Linked DNA regions of Homo sapiens. The protein of the gene in region 2 interacts with the protein of the main gene of each other region in a pairwise test. Each region holds a gene or a part of one and is shown on either strand. Other genes may lie near its edges. The genes, in order: PTCHD1, PDZD2 and NRXN1.

Region 1 (7,114 bases), on a different chromosome or scaffold from region 2:
CTCTTAATGTTTTGGGATTGTACCTGTGCAGTGAAGGAGATCCTTCTTGGGATATTGGTCCCACTATTTGCTGACAAAAAAAAAATAGACTGGGAGGGAGTGATGACAGAAAACGAAAAGCCAGGTTGACGTTTTTAAATGTAATTGAGAGTATTACAGAAAAATATCTGTATTTCAAAAATCCAGCTGATCTGGTTTGGAGGAGCTTTCTCGAATATGCGCAAGTGATATGATTACCATACTCTGACCACTGTAGCTTAGAAGTTGACCCCACACTGTGAGGCATGACTCCCCCCAGCGTTGGTTTCCCCTGAAGGCTACAGGGCAACGATGCATTATTAGGCAAAAGTGGGTAGGACCTGGTGGTGCTGATAAGGGCTCATGCAGTAATTTCTGAACCTCTTTACATACATGCTGCTCTTCAAACATCTTCCTTTTCCTAGAAAATTAAATTTAGCTGATTATATCTTTTAACAGAAGATCCATGATGTTCATCTCAAAGCAAATTTCAAAGGAGGGCCTCACAAGCTTTTATAGATACGTTTCGTTGCGATCACCTAAAATGAAGTGTAAGTAGGTCCCTTTGATAATTGATCCAGGCTGTTAACAAAACAATTCTTGATTTATTCCGGAATCATCTATTTAAAGTGAAGAATCAGTACAGCCCAGTACTTATGATAATGACATCATCTTTATAGGACTTTATAGGTTAGAAATATACAGTATGTTTAAATACAGTAAATTGGGAAAAATGCTATATCCCATTTTACATATGAGAAAACTACTTCTTAGAAGTTAACTGACTTGTCCATGGGAAAAAATACAAGGCTAGAACCAGGACTGGACTGGACCCAGGGTTTTGGACTCCAAGCCCAGTGTGCTTTTCATTGTAATTTACTTTCATATGATACACTACTGGAATGATTTAAAATGTACATTTTTGTTATCCAAATGAAGTACAGTTGACCAAAGTTTTATATCCCATCCCATCCAGTTGTTCTAATAGTGGTAATTGGATCATAAGAATATTTTTCTTGACTGATTCTGTCTAGTGTCAATTAAAATCCACATACAGAAACTCCAAATACCCAAAGTAAAGCATAAGATATTTATAATTAACAATATACAAGGATAGAAAGAAGATTTTTTTGGAAAAAAAATCTCTGGATGATTGAATGTAGCTGCTTCCTGATTGAGTGCTGCTCATTGGCAGGGTCCAGGTTGACTGAACTTTAGTGCCTTACACACTCCCTGGCACATAATAGCTACTCAATAAATACTTGTTGAATAGACCCTCCCTAGTTTACTCAGACATTTATGTGATGAGTTAAAGAAAATTCCATAAAAACGAATTTGAAATGTATTTACATAGTGAAATTTTTATTTTTACAACTTTACAGACAGTTACTAGGATTCTTTGTTTGCAAGATATCATTCTTCCCTCCTTGATAACCCCCGTAGTCATATCAAAGCGTATTTCAGTTTCAAAATTGGGTAGGGGAATTGCCTTTGTACAAAGTCCTCTTCTTCAGGGGAAACTCAGAATGTTTTATTCCAAACCACGGGAAGGACGCATCCTCACATAGCAAACATTCTTCCATTTACTAGGAGATCTCATTTCGCTCAAATATCAAGTTTCTGTTTTACTTAAAGCTTTTATGTTTAAATACATTAAATAGAATTAAGTTGCAAACAAGGTTAATAAAATCTAACCTTAAGTTATTTACTTCAGGCTTTCCAAGAAGGGCAGCATAACTGCTAGCTCGGGGTCACAAAGACTGGGTAGCTAGATCAAGATCATAGTTTTTCCAAATGCTGTCTCAACACTTGCAATCACTATGGGAATCACCATCATTTCTTCCTCCACAATCTAAGGATCAGCAAATTTCAGCCTAGTTTTTAACGTAGACTGAGTTTTTACAGTTTTAAAAGATTATAAACACAACAAAACAAAAACCAAGAAAGCTATATAGCAGAAATTGTGGCTCGCGAAGCCCGAGAGATTTGCTATCTGTACATTCAAAGTTCCTATGTTGTATTCTAAAATGTCATTACTAGAGCACTTTCAAGAAGTTAATACTGTGAATCTGTAAGGCAGTAGTTCTCAACCGGGGCTGACTGTGCACCCACCCAGGGGACATCTGGCAATGGCTGGAGACATTTTTGGTTGTCACAACTTGGGGAAGAGGCATGTGCTACTGGCATCTAGTGGGTAGAGGCACAGCGTAGCCCCCACAACAACAAAATTACCCAGCCCCAAATGTTAATAGTGCCAAGGTGGAGAAACTCTCTGCTTTGCATGTTTCTTTTGTTTTATAAAGATTCTTTTTTTGCTACTTTGATTATGTAAAATGAAAAAATGCCAAAGAGAAGTTCATAGAACTCTGGGGACAACTATTATGACCTCTGAGGTGATGCTCTCTTGGGCAGTTGAGCAGAGACCAGATTTTCCAGTGTAATCGTCCCCAAAATGCAGTTATCTTGCTCTCTTCGATGGCTCTGTCCCTTCAGGTCTAAATCCCACCTGCTGTAGAGGAGCCCAAGAAACTGAATGCAGTATAACTGCTTGAATGACGAAGGGGCTAAGTTGACACTGGCCTTTGAGACTTGTCCATTACTAGAGTGCCCATTATTGGCATGCCTTAAGCATCAGTCAGCAGCAGTCGCCCACTTAGGTCGGGCTTCTTCTGACAGTGTGTAAGACCCCACTGTGAGCAGCGACCTGAGGAGGCAGGAGGCAGTGCTTTGTTGCCTATTCCAGTCTCTCTGCTTTTCCAAGTATAAAATGACAAGAGAAGAGCTTGTATCAAAGAAACACGGAATCAAAGAACCTTCGGTTTAGAAGGCACCTTAAAGGTCATCTCCACAGAGGCTGATGCTAGAATCTTCTCTTAGCATCTCAGGGTGCTTTGTTTGGTGACAGGTGCTATGAAGCCTTGGGCAGTCCAGTCTCTTCTGGTGAGTTATCCAAGTGGCAGATACTCTTAGAAAAGATTGAGCCTGGGCCTGAAAGGGCAGCATTTGTGTATTTGCTGGGTCAGTCAATTGACTTTTACTCTTTATTTTTGTACTAGGGGAAAATTAAGGAGAGACTGAGATCGGTTTTCATTCTCCTTTCATTTCGTAGGTAGTGTATCCGAATAATCTAAGCACAGTCTCATCCTAGGGTTGTCTGACTTTTAAGTACATTTGATTTTTGCGATTAGTATGTAAAATGCCCACTTGTCTCATTTAGATTTGGGGAGCAGTCTTTTAATTCTCCATTTAGGTACACATTTGAGACAAACTTTGATTAAACTGAAATTTAGATATAAAGCCTTAGTGGGAGAGGAAGCCCACCTTTGTAATGACTCATGGCATCTTGATAGATGCCATATTAGAGTTAGGAAAGGATGATTCTATTTTAAATGACCACAAAAACTGAGCCTCTCAGGATTCACCAGACCTATAAAGCTCACAGGACAGTCAAGCATTGAACTGATGACTCCTTAAAAATACGAGAAGGAGAAGTAAGCTAACAGAAGTTATTTGTTTTCTACCTGAGTGTTTCCAGTCCCTTGGCACAAAAGCCAGGGAAATGTGAGATGCTGGTGAGCTGATCAACTTTGACTTTGTGGGATGTGCCATCTGGTACCTGATTTCGGGGCTCAGTGTGAGCCCCAAGTGATACTTGAGATAGGCTTAAAGCAGACCTTTGAAGTCACCTGCTTGATAGCACATCACAGCAAGCAGGCCTGTCTGCAGCACTGCCTGTGTCTCCGCCACATACCCGGAAGGCCACAGAACTACCGAGGAATCCTGCCAGACTGATTTAATGACCAGCAGGGGAGGTGAGTAATCGCTAACCTTTAAAAGACAAGAAAAGGAAAAAAAGAAAATCAACACCAGTTGTTATTTCTTACGGGAAGCCCTGAATAATATGTTGTGCTTGCAACTTCTGAATTCATATTTTGAACAAAAGGAGGCAGTGAGGAACTAGAAAAAGCTATTTTTATCTTCTTGCTCTCTAAGAAATCCTCTTGAGAATATTGTTTCTGCTATTTTGAAAGATCCCCATTGTTAGGTCTTCCACTTTAGGTTTAATTCATAGGCTTCAAGTACAGTTAAGATGATTTATGTAAGTGCAGTCGGTTATCTTGGGAGGTGATATCAGAAAAGGCTGATAGGGGAGTGGGGAAGTAAAACAGTGAGTAGCAGGAAGCCAATCAAGAGAGTATTATTAAGCAAGTGTCTACTGTGGGCAACTGGGGCTCAGTCTCACTAGGGAACTCTGGGAGACACTGTAGAATGTGTTGGAGAAATCTCAGTTGTGGATAAAGAAGCTGAATATTTTCTCCCCAACTCCAGCCATCATCGGCTGATTCAACTACATTTAGAAGCATTAAATTTCTGGCATTTTCATATGCTGTGTTTCTCCCTATATATATATATATATATATATATATATATATATATATATATATTTTTTTTTTTTTTTTTTTTTTAAAAGAATTGGGTACAGAGCTACAGGTGTTTGTGGCAAGCAACCTTAGCATGGAGAGGTGAGTGTGAGCTGAGACTATATGGGTGGGACCCTGAGAGCATCTGCCCTAAGGGTCTTATATTCATCTAGAGTTATACATCGAGAGATTTAGTGCCCCGTTTCTAGGGAATGGATATTCATCCCTTTACTCAACAAGATGGCTATGACCCTGTCTCCATGAAGCTTACAGTTAAGAATCATCCAGCATAGCTATTTAGTTATTCCCAAGTTTGACAAGTGCCAGTGGATGCTGGTAAAGATGACTCCAAACAGGGCCTAGACACCAACAGGATGTGTGGTTTTAGATGCCAGACCTCTACATTTGAGAGGCACATATTCATTCTCACCTTTATGAATACAGAAGTCTGCAGGCCCCCATCTTCACACATCTACTTTTGTTGTTCTCCCTAAAAGTGCCCTCCCTCCTCTCTTTAAGGACCAGTTCACATGCCTTCTACTTTATGAGGCTTTCTCAGATTCATGGCTTCTTCTCTCCCTTAAATCTATTGGGCTTTCATTCTTATACACATTCTTTAATGCAGAGCTGTAGACTCTTATGTAATTTGCTATATTGTCATGTGATCGTTTCTCTTAAGAGAGGTAATGAACTCTTCAGGGGCAGGAACAATGTCTGACACTGCCAGATCTCTCCTAGAGCCTAGCATAATGTGGAGTTTGCAGCAGGTGCTTAATAAATTGTTACTGGTTTATAGCTTGTAAGATGGAAAATGTGCTCTGCCTCCCTATTGATTTATTTTGGTCAAATATAATTTTGCCTGGTAGCATGACCATGTGATTTCTTGTGCTCTATATTCATTTTTCATCTTTGACAAATCTTGGTTTCAAACTTGTTGATAAGCAATAAGCATCCATTCTGTTTCCAGATCTGCTGCCATTTATATGAGGAGAAATTCTTGGAAAACCAAATATCTGACAACCTTCTCTGGTCCAAGTACAGTTTGGGAGGGTATGAACTTGACCTCAGTCCCCAATCAGTGGTGCATTTCCATGTGGGAGGGTGGATCCCTGTGCAGTTCCCAGTGAGCACCCTGGAACCCAAGTCCCCACACTACACATTCCCTTATTTACTTAAAGAAAAGTCTCAAAACATTGGCCACACCCATATTCAAATGTAAATAGGAAACACACTTAAAAGAAAACATCAAGGACAAGTGGTTTTCCTGACCATAGCACCAGTGTTCAGGAGATCACCATTCTGATGTTGCTTAGTCCCACTCTTCTTAAAAGTTAGCCCAGAGGAACAGAAAGTATTGTTCTAAGAGGCAAACTTAAAAGAAAATGATACTGGTACAAAATCAGCATATTTCTGTGAGTTTAATGGAAACACTAAAACTGCTAATTTTTCAGCGTGGAAGATAAAGATTCCTTTACCCATTCCTCCATGAGGCTCTCCTGCTGTCACTAATACCATGGCTTTGTCAATTCTTTCTAATTGTCTCAAGAAAAAATAATGCATCTCTGCTATAGAGCTGTCATTATAAATGCTCAAGAACATTTTGTGATATTTATACCTTAATTGTATGAGGTTTGAGTTGTTGGATTTTGTTTTTGGTCTTGTGGTATAGGCAAGTAGTCCTACTGAGTAAAGATTGTTTGATTGCTCTCAGACTTTCTAACATGCACACACGTCACCTAGGCATCTTGCTAAAATACAGACTGATTCAAAGGGTCTGGGGTGGGAACTGCAAGTCTGCATTTCTAACAAGATCTGAGGTGATGCTGATGCTACAGATCAGCAGAACACACTTGGAGTAGCAAGGCTCAAATTTAACTGTTGTAAACAGAAAACTGGATTTAGAATCAGGAAAGCCAAGTTCAAGTTCCAGTTCTCCTAAGTATGTATCTTTGGGCAAGTCACCTAACCTCCCTGAGAAACACGCTCCTTATTTGCACTGGGTGTAATAGCATCTCTTTCACCCACTTAAGGTAAAGATAGAATGAGATAAAGTATGTGAAGGCACTGTGTAACCATAGCCTTCTGTAAAGTGTGTTATCATTATTACTATTTACTTTGAAAATGACTGCTATTTCCTCACATGTGCCAGCTCTTTCAAAGCCATTATTGCCTGTTGAGTAATACACATGTAGCCACTTTTTTCTTTGATCCAACAGGCAATAATGGGTGCTCAAGCTACATTCAATACTCATATTGCCAATTTGTTGGTCTTTAATGACTCCATCTGAGTCATTACAGACAATTGGATTCAACCTACTGCTGAGCATGCAGCTCCTCTACCTGCAGAAAGTTCTTAGGCAGGCAGAGCTGCGGATGGGGATGGGTGCATTGCATTCCAGCACACCAACGTGGTTCCTCTGGGCTCAGAACCTACTCTTCATGCCTGATGGGGCTTTGCACACAAAAAAAGCCTTCACTTCCTGCCCAGGGAAGTGCCTTTTGAATTAAAGGTTCTGAGAGGCTGCGGGCTCTGGTTTCAGGGCTCTCCTCACCACATCTCACAGCACAGCATGCCAAAGAGGGATTCTCCAGTGATTTAGGTGAGAACGTTGATCATTCTCCTCTCTTACTGAATTTACATGACTACAGTGTTTCCCTGGGAAATCTCGTCCACA
Region 2 (7,114 bases):
TTAATATTTTGGTCTGTATCATTTGAGTCTTGTGCGTATATGGGTGTGAATAAATATATAGTCCTGTGCTTTTTTTGTCTTTTTGCCAAAAAAAAAAAAAAAATCCACTGTGGTAGTCACCAGTACCTAACAACCTTTTTAAACCTCATACATCCACACGAAATAATATTTGAGCAGCCTGCTGGCATCAGTAAGACTGCTCCTCAGCCCATGGGCCTGACCTAGCAGGCTGTCCCTCGCACTGACCACTCTGCTGTCAGCACACCCATAGCCTACTCTAGGAAACCGCACTGCTATCCTGCAGGCTCTTCTACACCCGACATCACCTGGAGAGGCTGCTGGGCCTTCCACCCCACGGATGTGCTGTAACGAGTCAACCTTCCTCCCATGATTGGGCATTTCGAACGTTTCCAGAGAAAAGGTTGTCTTGAAAGGTGACAACCAAAGGCTGCCTCAGTGTAACCTCGTCTCCCTCAGATGAAGACCTTTTAAGTTACAGACTTTGCAATAAAGTCAAATTGCTAACATGAATTGCCTGTTTAGGTTTATTCAGTGAGCGAATATGAAATTTGTTTATTTTTGAGACGGATTCTTGCTCTGTCGCTCAGGCTGGATGGAGTACAGTGGCTCGATCTCGGCTCACTGCAACCTCCGCCTCCCAGGTTCAGGCAGTTCTCCTGCCTCAGCCTCCCAAGCAGCTGGGATTACAGACGTGCACCACCACACCTGGCTAATTTTTGTATTTTTAGTAGAGATGGGATTTCCCCATGTTGGCCAGGCTGGTTTCGAACTCCTGACCTCAAGTGATCTGCCTGGCCTCAGCATCCCAAAGTGCTGGGATTACAGGCATGAGCCACCGCCCACGGCCTGAATATGAAATTTAAAAACAGAGTTTAAATCCCCTCCTTTTGTGTCATTGCTACTCCCCACCACCACCCGCACTACCGCCCATATTTGCTGTCACCAGAAGCAGGAACATTATGCTTAAGGGGAAGTTCAAAAAAGGTTGAGCAGAGAAGGAGAAGAGCACGTGGCTTTGAGTCTTGGCAGGCCCCTGGCCTTCCACAGTGGGCCTGGAAAGCTAGTAGCTAGTACGGTCTCCATGGGGATCTCGACGATCCAACCTTTTGATTGCCAAGGGCTCTCCACACAGAGGCCACATAGTCAGGGTTTAGGCAGTAGCATGGGCTGTGGAGCCAGCTTCCTGGGGCGACCGCTGGCTCTGCCACCTGTGAACTCTGACCTCAGACACATTGCTTAACCACGCTGTTTCTCCGTCCTCATCCTTCCAATGCAGATGGTCACAGGACATACCTCAGTGTTAGGAGGAAAATTAAATGTGTACAAAACTCTTAGCACAGTGTTAACTCCTTAATTATTGGAAAACCTCTTAGCACAGGGCTGAGTCCTAATAATTAGTTCTTAATTATTCACATAGCAAGGTCAGCAGGTTAAAAAAATGCAATTAAGATGATTTTATGTGAGAGCTGTGGAACGAACATAATATTTGGGGAAGAGTTGGTTTGACTTAATTCTCAAACCAAGAGCTTTCATGGAACTTCATTTTTCACTCCAACCTCAGACCCATAGTTCCTAAGAAAATAGCTTTGTTCTTTCTGATGCCAGATTTTTTTTCCCTGTTGCAAGATGCTGTGTGTCTGAGGTGGAAGATTAGCCCAAGACTATGCAGGGCCTTATGAACAGGCACTTTCAGGAGTGAGTGGCTGTTGGAACCCACCTCCTAGATGACTTCCCACTGTCCACTGGCACACATCCCCTTGCCCTGCCACCTCCAAGATTTCAGGCTCTTTCTTGCTTCTCTGCTTTCATTCTGTTGCCTTTTTTTTTTTTTTTTTTTTTTTTTTGAGACAGAGTCTTGCTCTGTTGCCCAGGCTTGAAGGCAGTGGTGCAATCTCAGCTCACTGACCTCTACCTCCTGGGTTCAAGCGAATCTCGTGCCTCAGCCTCCCAAGTAGCTGGGATTACAGGTGCATGCCACCATGCCTGGTTAATTTTTGTATTTTTCGTAGAGATAGGGTTTCACCATGTTGGCCAAGCTGGTCTCAAACTCCTGACAAGTGATCCACCTGCCTTGGCCTCCCAAAGTGCTGGGATTACAGGCGTGATCCACCGTGCCCAGCTGCCTTTTTTTTTTTTTAATTGACACATAATTGTACATACTTATGGAGCACAAAGTGGTACTTCAGTACATATATACATTGTGCAATGATTAAATCAGGGTAATTAGCATATCCATCACATCAAATGTATCATGTCTTTGTGGTAGGAACATCCCAAATTCTCTCTTCTAGCTATTTCAATAAATGCAATACCTTATTATTATTTTTTTTTTTTGAGACGGAGTCTTGCTCTGTTACTCAGGCTGGAATACAATGGCATGATCTTGGCTCACTGCAACTCCACCTCCCAGGTTCAAGCGATTCTCCTGCCTCAGCCTCACAAGTAGCTGGGATTACAGGCGTGTGCCACCACACTCAGCTAATTTTTGTATTTTTAGTAGAGACGGGAATTTCACCATGTTGGCCAGGCTGGTCTCGAACTCTTGACCTCAGGTGATCCACCCGCCTTGGCCTCCCAAAGTGCTGGGATTACAGGCGTGAGCCACCATGCCCAGCCCTGTTTTTGTTGTGTTGTTGTTGTTTTGTTTTGTCTTTTGTTTTTTTTACACTCAAACTGCCTTGGCTATTCAGAGTCCTTTGTGGTTCCATGCACATTTTACAACTGTTTTTTTTTTTTCTATTTCTGTAAAAAATGTCATTGGAATTTTGGTAGGAATTGTACCGAATCTATAGATGACTTTGGGTAGTATGGACATTTTAACGGTACTCTTCCATTGTCTTCCTTACCTTCCTCCTCCTCACTCTCTGGCCAAACTCCCCTTGTCAGCCCCATTCATGTCCCCACCTCCTCTGTCAAGTCTTCCTGGGATAATCTGGCTTCTCACTCTCCCACTCCTCTGAATTCGTCAAGACAGCCAGAGCTCGGTGTAGACCTGTATCCCAGCTTTCGTATTCTGTATGTTTTCCCTAGTTAGCCTCAGCCCCTGCACTAAAAAGGAAGCCTCTTGAGCTCGGCACTTGGACTGTTTTACACTGAAGTACATCATTCACATCCCCCAGTGTGAGCCAAACCCACACACCACTGGCCAGATACTGGGACTGAGAGGTCCATGAGGGCCCTGCTGCATCCACGCAGGAGTAGGGAACCAAATAGAACAAGAGCCTGACGCTTGCGGCTTTGCCATCAGAGGGTGAATGGCATAAAGAGACCCAAGTGTGCAATGATTAAATCAGGGTAATCAGCATATCCATCACATCAAATGTATCATTTCTTTGTGGTAGGAACATCTGCCATCATAGAAATACCAAAAGAGAGAAAAATGGGCAGATGTAAATGTTTCTTCTGCCGGCTAATCTGAGTTCTCTTAGAGCGTCTAAAGCAGGGTGGTATTTGTTAGATGTGGGTACTCTATAATTTTAGAGAGAAAACCAGGAAGACAAGAAGGGCCTCCATTTAGGCCACAGAACGCCGTTTTGTTGTTGTTGTTGTTGTTGTTGTTTTCTGAGACGGAGTTTCGCTCTTTTTGCCCAGGCTGCAGTGCAATGGCACATTCTCGGCTCACTGCAACCTCCACCTCCCAGGTTCAAGCAATTCTCCTGCCTCAGCCTCCCAAGTAGCTGGGATTACAGGTGCCCACCCCCATGCCCAGCTAATTTTTTTTTTTTTTTTTTTTTTTTTAGTAGAGATGGGGTTTCACCATGTTGGCCAGGCTGGTCTCGAACTCCTGACCTCAGGTGATCCACCCGCCTCCGCCTCCCAAAGTGCTGGGATTACAAGCATGCGCCACCACGCCCAGCTTTCTGAAAAAGAAAAAAATATTTGAGGTTGTTTATAATTTTCTAGTTTTTAATAATTGAGGGGCTGCTTTCTTATATTATCCCTTTTATCTCCCCTACAACCTCTCCTGTGTATGTACCTTCTGTTTACGTTCCCCACGTAGAACTGGACAGCTCCTCAGACCTCATCTCTTCCCCAGGGAAGAAGGGGGCCGCTCATCCTGACCCCAGCAAGACCTCTGTAGACACAGGGCAAGTCAGTCGGCCAGAGAATCCCAGCCAGCCTGCATCGCCCAGGGTCACCAAGTGCAAGGCCAGGTCTCCAGTCAGGCTCCCCCATGAGGGCAGCCCCTCCCCGGGGGAGAAAGCAGCGGCTCCCCCTGACTACAGCAAGACTCGATCAGCATCGGAAACCAGCACACCCCACAATACCAGGAGGGTGGCTGCCCTCAGGGGAGCGGGACCTGGAGCAGAGGGAATGACACCAGCTGGTGCTGTCCTGCCAGGAGACCCCCTCACATCCCAGGAGCAGAGACAGGGAGCTCCAGGTAACCACAGTAAGGCTCTGGAAATGACAGGAATCCATGCACCTGAAAGCTCCCAGGAGCCTTCCCTGCTGGAGGGAGCAGATTCTGTGTCCTCAAGGGCACCGCAGGCCAGCCTCTCCATGCTGCCATCCACTGACAACACCAAAGAAGCATGTGGCCATGTCTCGGGGCACTGCTGCCCAGGGGGGAGTAGAGAGAGCCCTGTGACGGACATTGACAGCTTCATCAAGGAGCTGGATGCTTCTGCAGCAAGGTCTCCGTCTTCCCAGACGGGGGACAGTGGCTCTCAGGAGGGCAGTGCTCAGGGCCACCCACCAGCCGGGGCTGGAGGTGGGAGCTCCTGCCGTGCCGAACCAGTCCCGGGGGGCCAGACCTCCTCCCCGAGGAGGGCCTGGGCTGCTGGTGCCCCCGCCTACCCACAATGGGCCTCCCAGCCTTCGGTTTTAGATTCAATTAATCCCGACAAACATTTTACTGTGAACAAAAACTTTCTGAGCAACTACTCTAGAAATTTTAGCAGTTTTCATGAAGACAGCACCTCCCTATCAGGCCTGGGTGACAGCACGGAGCCGTCTCTGTCATCCATGTATGGCGATGCTGAGGATTCTTCTTCTGACCCTGAGTCACTCACTGAAGCCCCACGAGCTTCTGCCAGGGACGGCTGGTCCCCTCCTCGTTCCCGTGTGTCTTTGCACAAGGAAGATCCTTCGGAGTCAGAAGAGGAACAGATTGAGATTTGTTCCACACGTGGCTGCCCCAATCCACCCTCGAGTCCTGCTCATCTTCCCACCCAGGCTGCCATCTGTCCTGCCTCAGCCAAAGTTCTGTCATTAAAATACAGCACTCCGAGAGAGTCGGTGGCCAGTCCCCGTGAGAAGGCCGCCTGCTTGCCAGGCTCATACACTTCAGGCCCAGACTCTTCCCAGCCATCATCACTCTTGGAGATGAGCTCTCAGGAGCATGAAACTCATGCGGACATAAGCACTTCACAGAACCACAGGCCCTCGTGTGCAGAAGAAACCACAGAAGTCACCAGCGCTAGCTCAGCCATGGAAAACAGTCCGCTGTCTAAAGTAGCCAGGCATTTTCACAGTCCGCCCATCATTCTCAGCTCCCCCAACATGGTAAATGGCTTGGAACATGACCTGCTAGATGACGAAACCCTGAATCAATACGAAACAAGCATTAATGCAGCTGCCAGTCTGTCCTCCTTCAGTGTGGATGTCCCTAAGAATGGAGAATCTGTTTTGGAAAACCTCCACATCTCTGAAAGTCAAGACCTGGATGACTTGCTACAGAAACCAAAAATGATCGCTAGGAGGCCCATCATGGCCTGGTTTAAAGAAATAAATAAACATAACCAAGGCACACATTTGAGGAGCAAAACCGAGAAGGAACAACCTCTAATGCCTGCCAGAAGTCCCGACTCCAAGATTCAGATGGTGAGTTCAAGCCAAAAAAAGGGCGTTACTGTGCCTCATAGCCCTCCTCAGCCGAAAACAAACCTGGAAAATAAGGACCTGTCTAAGAAGAGTCCGGCAGAAATGCTTCTGACTAATGGTCAGAAGGCAAAGTGTGGTCCGAAGCTGAAGAGGCTCAGCCTCAAGGGCAAGGCCAAAGTCAACTCTGAGGCCCCTGCTGCGAATGCTGTGAAGGCTGGGGGGACGGACCACAGGAAACCCTTGATCTCACCCCAGACCTCCCACAAAACACTTTCTAAGGCAGTGTCACAGCGGCTCCATGTAGCCGACCACGAGGACCCTGACAGAAACACCACAGCTGCCCCCAGGTCCCCCCAGTGTGTGCTGGAAAGCAAGCCACCTCTTGCCACCTCTGGGCCACTGAAACCCTCAGTGTCTGACACGAGCATCAGGACATTTGTCTCGCCCCTGACCTCTCCCAAGCCTGTTCCTGAGCAAGGCATGTGGAGCAGGTTCCACATGGCTGTCCTCTCTGAACCCGACAGAGGTTGCCCAACCACCCCTAAATCTCCTAAGTGTAGAGCAGAGGGCAGGGCGCCCCGTGCTGACTCCGGGCCGGTGAGTCCGGCAGCGTCTAGGAACGGCATGTCCGTGGCAGGGAACAGACAGAGTGAGCCGCGCCTGGCCAGCCATGTGGCAGCAGACACAGCCCAACCCAGGCCGACTGGCGAAAAAGGAGGCAACATAATGGCCAGCGATCGCCTCGAAAGAACAAACCAGCTGAAAATCGTGGAGATTTCTGCTGAAGCAGTGTCAGAGACTGTATGTGGTAACAAGCCAGCTGAAAGCGACAGACGGGGAGGGTGCTTGGCCCAGGGCAACTGTCAGGAGAAGAGTGAAATCAGGCTCTATCGCCAGGTCGCAGAATCATCCACAAGTCATCCATCCTCACTCCCATCTCATGCCTCCCAGGCAGAGCAGGAAATGTCACGATCATTCAGCATGGCAAAACTGGCGTCCTCCTCCTCCTCCCTTCAAACAGCCATTAGAAAGGCAGAATACTCCCAGGGAAAATCAAGCCTGATGTCAGACTCCCGAGGGGTGCCCAGAAACAGCATTCCAGGGGGCCCCTCGGGGGAGGACCATCTCTACTTCACCCCAAGGCCAGCGACCAGGACCTACTCCATGCCAGCCCAGTTCTCAAGCCATTTTGGACGGGAGGGTCACCCCCCACACAGCCTGGGTCGCTCTCGGGACAGCCAGGTCCCTGTGACAAGCAGTGTTGTCC
Region 3 (7,114 bases), on a different chromosome or scaffold from region 2:
TTGCTCTGAATATAAAGAACAGGACATAATATGTATTATTCTTATGAAGTATGCTTTTCTTGCAAAGGTAAATTTTGGATATGCTGTAAAAGTAGAGTATAATATAATTTATAGACCAAATGGCATACTTTTGAGAGTCAAAAATATACTATTAATAATTACACTGAACATCAGGTATGCACAGGTACTATCCAGGCCAACTGGGCTGCATGGCCACATGATGGAAGACAGAGGTGAAATCTATGTTTTGGTAAATAATCATGAGAAGACCTAATTAAGAGCATCATCACTAGAATCAAAGAAATCTTAGAGCTGAGTACAACTTAAGAGTTTCCTAGTTCAACCTACTTATTTTACAGAGGCAGCAAGGCCAAAGTACAATGATGTGACCCAAGTTGTCCAAGTCACATGACGAGATAGGTGGTTGTGTTGAAAGTGGAAACCAGGTCTCCTCATTCATCATGCTCTTTCCATTATACTACAATCTCTCTACAGTATGTATGTATTCTCTATAGTATGTATGTAGCTTGTAAAATATTCTCGAAGGAAAGAACAAAAAGATCGTAAAATGTGCTATAAAGAACATTCCAGAAACGATGTCACAAGCTTGATCGTAAAAGAAACAGCACAGTTCAATTTTCCTTTCTTTGTGGACAGGCAAAGGAAGGAAGTGTTGTCCTCTTCATGTTGGCTTACATGTACTCATCTCATAAGACATTGCAAGTTTAATTAGAAGAGGGGGAACATTTAGCAGCCAAAAAACTTGCATGATACTCCTGCCACATGCCAAGAAGCTCTCAGAATCTCAAAGAACTTTATACCACCAATAGTTTTTGTGAATATTTGCTTTCTGAGATTAGCCTTCTGGAAAGTTTCATAAAATCAGGAGGCCTTATGGAAACATTTAAAAATTAAATATTCCAAGTAAAATGAATTTTATAAATTTTATAAATTTTATGTAATCCACATAAAAAGTACTATCAATATTGTTATATTCACATTAAAAAGGAACAATTCGATCAGAAGTTTTGGTAAATGTCCCTATTATTTCTTGATATAAATCACATCTTCCTAAAGTAAACATTGGGCTGAAAATTGATTATCATTCAAAGCAAAACTTCTTTTTTTTTTTTTTACTTTTAAAAGGATATTTACTTTAAGTAGGAATATAAACAGGACTTTATGGAGGATATTTTGATGAACACTACTATATTCTCTGAGTCTGTGAAAACTGAAATACATTTCTTCCCTATTACTATCCCTGCAGGATGGCTGAACAAACCTCATCTCATCTATTTGAAATGAGTCCAATTTAATTCTGCCTGACCAAAAATCTGTTTCCATAGTTTTAAAACATGCAATCACCCCAAGGTACATTGCCATTGTAGCTTAAGTGGCTCAGTGTTATCACTGAGAAAAATGCACTTTGATTGAGAAAACAGTCCAGTGTGGCTTTTGAAAAATGAAATGACCCTTTCTGATACACAATTTAGTAAGACAGTTGATAAAAGCAGGCGGATATGGCCACTATAGACAACATTTAAAGGAAGATGCTTCATCCAACCTGTAAAAATAGGTCAAAGTTTACAGTTTCGAAATTAACATTAGAAATTTATCTCATATTTAAACTTCCTGGTTTAAATATTACTGTATTTAGAGGACAATTGAAAAGTCAATTACGAATTATGGAAAATTTTCAACAAATTATTCTGTCACTCAAATATAAATAAATTGCTTTCTTCCCTAATGTTTTTTCCCCATACATACATGTGTTGTTATCTGTATTCATATATATATCTCACTACTTAAGAGACTTTTAAAACCTATTAGCCCAACTTTAAAATACTGTTGCTACTACTGAATACTTGTAACATATTAAGTCAAATTCTTTAATTACTGTCACTGGTTTATTACAAAGCTAACAATTTTAAATATCTATTTTTAAATGAACCTAATAATCTTTTATTTAAGTCAATATCTCCTCAAATGAACCAAGTATTCACTAATTAATTAGATCATTTACATCTATAAACTGCTGCTGTCTTCAAACATGTAATAGCTTATAATAAAAGAGGCTCTTTTCATTGGCAATTAAGGAGCAGTTAACTCTTTACCTTCTGCATTTTAATATTATAAAATGCATAAATCTTTATTTCTGCATTTCTACGTATTTAGCTTTCAAATGAAACAGCTGTTTTGTACTTAAAAATAATATTTCTTAATATATGTTACTAATTGACAAAATACATAAAACCAATGCTGATAATATTTTCTTCTTTTGGGACACACCTGGTTTATATAGGAGATTTGGCAACTGTAATCTCATTAATGATAAAACAAGACTACTAAGAAAAATACCTGATTATTTCAAATTATATTCATAAAAGCATTCCTAACTCTGAATGTCCTCTTGTGAATTATTTTAGATAAAGGAAAGTCTATCAATTTATTTGTTTCATTTTTCCTGTATCAGATTTACTGTAATAACTTGCTTATCAGTAAGTGAACCATAAATCTACAGCAGTAACAAATCATTAATGAAACATTAGCAAAGAATGTTAAATGGAGCTATTGGGCAAACATAAATCTTTCTAAAGTCACAAGTCTTTATCCAAGGAACTAAGTGCTATGATGTTATTGGCAACCTTATAAATCCTAACGAGAGAAAATCAACAAAAGGATCACATTGCAGGCAAACAGTCCTACTAAAATGTATATTCTTTGAGGGCAGGGGTTTCGTTTGCTGTTACCAATATATCCTCATGCCTAGAAAAGTATCTGGCACATGTAGACAGTGATCAATAAATATATATTTGTGAACACCCTATAAGACATCCCATTTTATTTTGTAGCCACATGCAAATAGGAAACGAAAAGAAAAGAGAGAAAAATGAAAATAAGTGCACATGTAGGTACAATATATCCAACACTACATTTAATTTGCATTTTTTGTATTTTTTGCCCATCCCTCTTCTAGGACATTTTCTCTTCATCTATTCTGTTCCTCTCACCCTTTTCCATTCAAAGTAAAAATCAGAGTCAATTTTCTTCATTTTCTGGGAAACATGTTAATTCATATTTGGGGTGCTGATACAAACAGAATTTGCCTTCTATTATTTTCCTTCCAAACTGGATGCAGGTCTGTTTCAAATGCAAGAAGTAAAAGCAAATTTAAATATAATTATCATTCTTGCTTCTTCAGAATGCATTTTTCTGGAAAAGTAGGGATCGTGTATTTGGAAAAGCTTTAAATGGCACCTACTGAATATACTCACTATCAGTAAAACAGAACAAAACGAAACAATTAATTTTGGACCAAGGATAATACACAATTCTGAAAAAATTAACAACTGGATACATACAAAGGCTGCAAATACCAACAGGAATCTAATGGCATTTGAACAGCATCTAACAGCATTTCGAATAAGGTTTTTTTTTCCCTGTGTTCTTCACTGATGGAACACCAATATTCAAACCAGTGCCTGAAATGTAGTAGGCAATCAATAATTATGTCCTGATTGAATTAACATACTTCCAAGTTGTGCAAATGCCACATTTAAAAATCATATTCTTCAAAAATTTTAGGCACAAGATTGAAATAAGCTAATTAGAGTTAATTGTAGGTGAGGGCAATTAATCACATACACAAAATACCTCATATTTTGGGTTTGTGTGCTCAGATAAACCAATAGAATGTTTTTTTATTTTTAAATAAATAGTGAAAGAGTATACCCATCATTCACCAAGAAAGCCACATGGCTGGCTATCAATTCAAAACTTTAAACTTCAAAATACTATAGAAGTATTGTACTATTAAAATATCTCTTTTAAGATTAAATTTGCCTTGATTTTATTTTGAAGTGCTGAGCTTAAACAGACAAGGTTTTCAAATATTTCATTAACTTGTTCATTTAAACTAAAAAGTGAAAATCCTATGTAATTAGCAGACGATCTACTCAGCTTGGGCCAGAGGAGGGTTATGGAATCAAGACTATCATTTAGCATCTAACAAACCAAAACAAAATCTTTTGTAAAAGTCCACAAACCTCTAATGAACAACATACACACATTTCATATTCAAACGGAATGCATTATGTTAAGCTAGTTTCAAAGGAAGCTGTAGTGCCTAAGATCAGAAAAATGTTCCAATTTAGAAAAGACGCATATGCAGAAAAGCCCACTATCATAAATAATATAGGATGAAAATGAAGGAATAAAATCCACAGGCTCACCTGGCTAATGGGTTCTTTTGTCGGGGGCTTTCCTCTTCTGGCTGTGCTAGTAGCCAGGGTCGTGGTAGTCTCCATAATTGATGTGGACATCTCTGATTGCATGGCAGTGGCTGTTGACTCAGTTGTCATAGAGGAAGGCACTTCACCAACCAGTCTCACATTTCCCACTATGGCGATGTTGGCATCGTTTTCGGCTGCCATATTCAGAACTTTCAAGCCATTGTAGTACAGCCCAGAGAGCTGGCCCTGGAAGGGCTGGCCCTGCTCTTTCCCGCCAATTATTATGGTTGCTTGGCTATTGAAGATTGTGAGCTGACGCCCTGTAAAAATAATATTACATACATGCAAAAATGTTGATTGTGAACTCTATATCTACAATGGATGATAAAACAGATCTTTTATGGGGTGAATAATGAGAGCAATAAACTATAAGAGAGGCATTTGACTCATAATTCATTGCTTATAAATGAGGTGTCCATGAAATGCATAATTATTGGCAAATACTTGTAAATTCTCAACTTATTATAAATGTAGTGCTTTTGCTAAAAGACCAATCAAAGATATGTATTACAAATCAGTTTTTAGTGGATCCCTTTTCCCTTTTACATCAAGATCTTATATTGTTGGTGTCTAAAGTCTAAATTGTTAAATTTTAAAAATGTAAGACAACATTTCAAGTATTTGTCATTCTGAAATTACCACTGACAGAAACTAATACATAGCAGCTGAAATCTAATTTAAATTTTATGGTAAAAATTTCATAATTCACATAATGTCCACATATATCTATATGTTATTCTTTAGTGCTGTTTATTTTTTGAAGGCAATTATTCATTGTTATTTGAATTATTCTATTTTTCCGGCAATCACACTGAAAAGAAATTCATGGTTTACACTGAGCATGTCAGAGACAAAAAAATTCCAAAAATATTTTTCTGATTGGCTTTCAGCAAGTCTATCAAAACAAAACAAAATGAAAAAAAAAAATAGCTTCAGATGTAAAAAGCGGCTTCAGGAATGATACACAAACCGATGGAGAAATTATGGCACATTTCCATCAAACAGCAATCCTTAATAACAGTACCATTATCATCAAATTGAGTATCCAGTTTTAGCAGATTGCTCTCTGCTCATAAAAGCATGCACACAACTTTAAGTTCAGTTTTAATATGGGCTTGTTCCCAAATCCTCTTAGAAGGTTGCAAATGTTAAAGGGACTTCATTATGACTGGCAATTCATATTGCCCACTATTTAAGATTCCTAGAGTTTAAACAAAGAGTTTTTGTTTTTTTCAGGACCATAATAAAGATATCAGAACTACATATATTTTAGTTAATAATTTAGAGGCTGGAACATGTAATATAGTCTATGAATGATTTATCATTTTGGGTTAATGCTTGCTGTGAGTACCCTCATAGATTGAGTTAGTGGATTATATTTAACAGTCCCTTTAACCTTAAGTTAACTGGGTAAGATTATTAAACAGCTGGTACGTCTAAAAATGTATAGAAATTATTATACAAGGTATGCAAATATTACTATCTACATTTTACTGTTTTAAAGTTGTTTTTAATTTAGTTTTACGGAAAATTTATTTTTTATGTTTATTAGTGTTACAATGAAGTACTACTTGGTTATGTTCAAATTATTTTTTTATTTGAAGTTTTAATCAATGTTTTTTACCTTTGTCGAGTAGCCATTCATCAACTACTCGACCAAGTCGATATGGAATTCGCTGTCTAGCAATCGCCAGGCGCTCGTTATCATTGTTTCCTTTAAAGTTTAAAGAGACATTTCATTGGTTAAAATCTGTAAGGTCAAAGGTTAAAAGTTAATACTTAAAGATTGAGCTATACAGTTGCCACATGATTTTTTGAAATTTGGAATTTTAAAAAGTTCTACCTAGAACATTTCATGTTTCAGACTTGTCATTCATTCATTTATTTTATTTTAGCAAACAAAATTATTCCTATGTTAATTGAAAATTAGAAATCTGCATTTGAGCTAGGTTATTAAACTTATGTTATAGACAGACCCGAACAACCAATTTAAACAGCATATAATAGCTTTACAAAAAATGACCAATGACCTCAGGGTTTTGTCTTTTTGATGTTTCTTATTAACTAGTTAAACATGTTCAGGTGAAACAGGTTTAAGTTTTCAAAATACATTCAACCTCTTATTCCAGATTAATAATTTATGATCACCAAACTTAATACCATATTTGGCACACTGAAGCATCTACAATAGGCCTAGCATACTTTATTTCCTAGTCAGAAAACAGAAATTCTTATTCACCTCATTTAAGAAAACAACAAAGTCCAAATAGTTCTTGTGTATTTCACACAAATTGATTTATCAATCACTTGGACATCACAAGAGAATGCATCTTGCATCATCCAGATACGTTATTACAGGAAAAGGCTTTGACAAAAGTCACTTTATTTGAGTGTCCTTGAGTTTCATTTAAAGCTTAACATGTTGAAGCAAATAACATTTGAAAAAATAATTATATGTATGTTTTTATATAGTCAAATATCTGCTTTTTATTAAGTTATTCTTTAAAAGCATGACAGCTTAAGGAACGAATATAAGCCACAAACAGTGGCCCCTATTCATAGATCTAACCTAAGTGAGAGCCCTGCTTCTTTGCATAAAAAATTATCTGCTAGAAACACTGTTTAAATTGACCTTGAATATTGCTTGCAAATAGATGAGTGTTTTCTTGATCTGTAGAGCACTTACGAAGAATCTGAGACACCATCTCGGTGTTGAGTTGTGTATAATGCAAGAAGAGATTTTCTATTCCATTAGAGTTAACTAACATGGAAATTTAAGCCAAGACATTTTGGCATTAGCTCAGATGAGGACTCAGAGGTGA

The links.
Region 1: the proteins of PDZD2 (region 2) and PTCHD1 interact in a two-hybrid assay, tested with the Homo sapiens proteins (one study listed by BioGRID and IntAct).
Region 3: the proteins of PDZD2 (region 2) and NRXN1 interact in a two-hybrid assay, tested with the Homo sapiens proteins (one study listed by BioGRID).

Annotation. Positions count from the first base shown.
Region 1 is NC_000023.11:23,337,849-23,344,962, forward strand, and holds part of PTCHD1 (patched domain-containing protein 1), read left to right. Parts: intron 1-7,114. UniProt on the Homo sapiens protein: Required for the development and function of the thalamic reticular nucleus (TRN), a part of the thalamus that is critical for thalamocortical transmission, generation of sleep rhythms, sensorimotor processing and attention. Can bind cholesterol in vitro.
Region 2 is NC_000005.10:32,083,110-32,090,223, forward strand, and holds part of PDZD2 (PDZ domain-containing protein 2), read left to right. Parts: intron 1-4,021; coding exon 4,022-7,114.
Region 3 is NC_000002.12:50,049,039-50,056,152, forward strand, and holds part of NRXN1 (neurexin-1 isoform alpha4 precursor), read right to left. Parts: intron 6,007-7,114; coding exon 5,917-6,006; intron 4,553-5,916; coding exon 4,233-4,552; intron 1-4,232.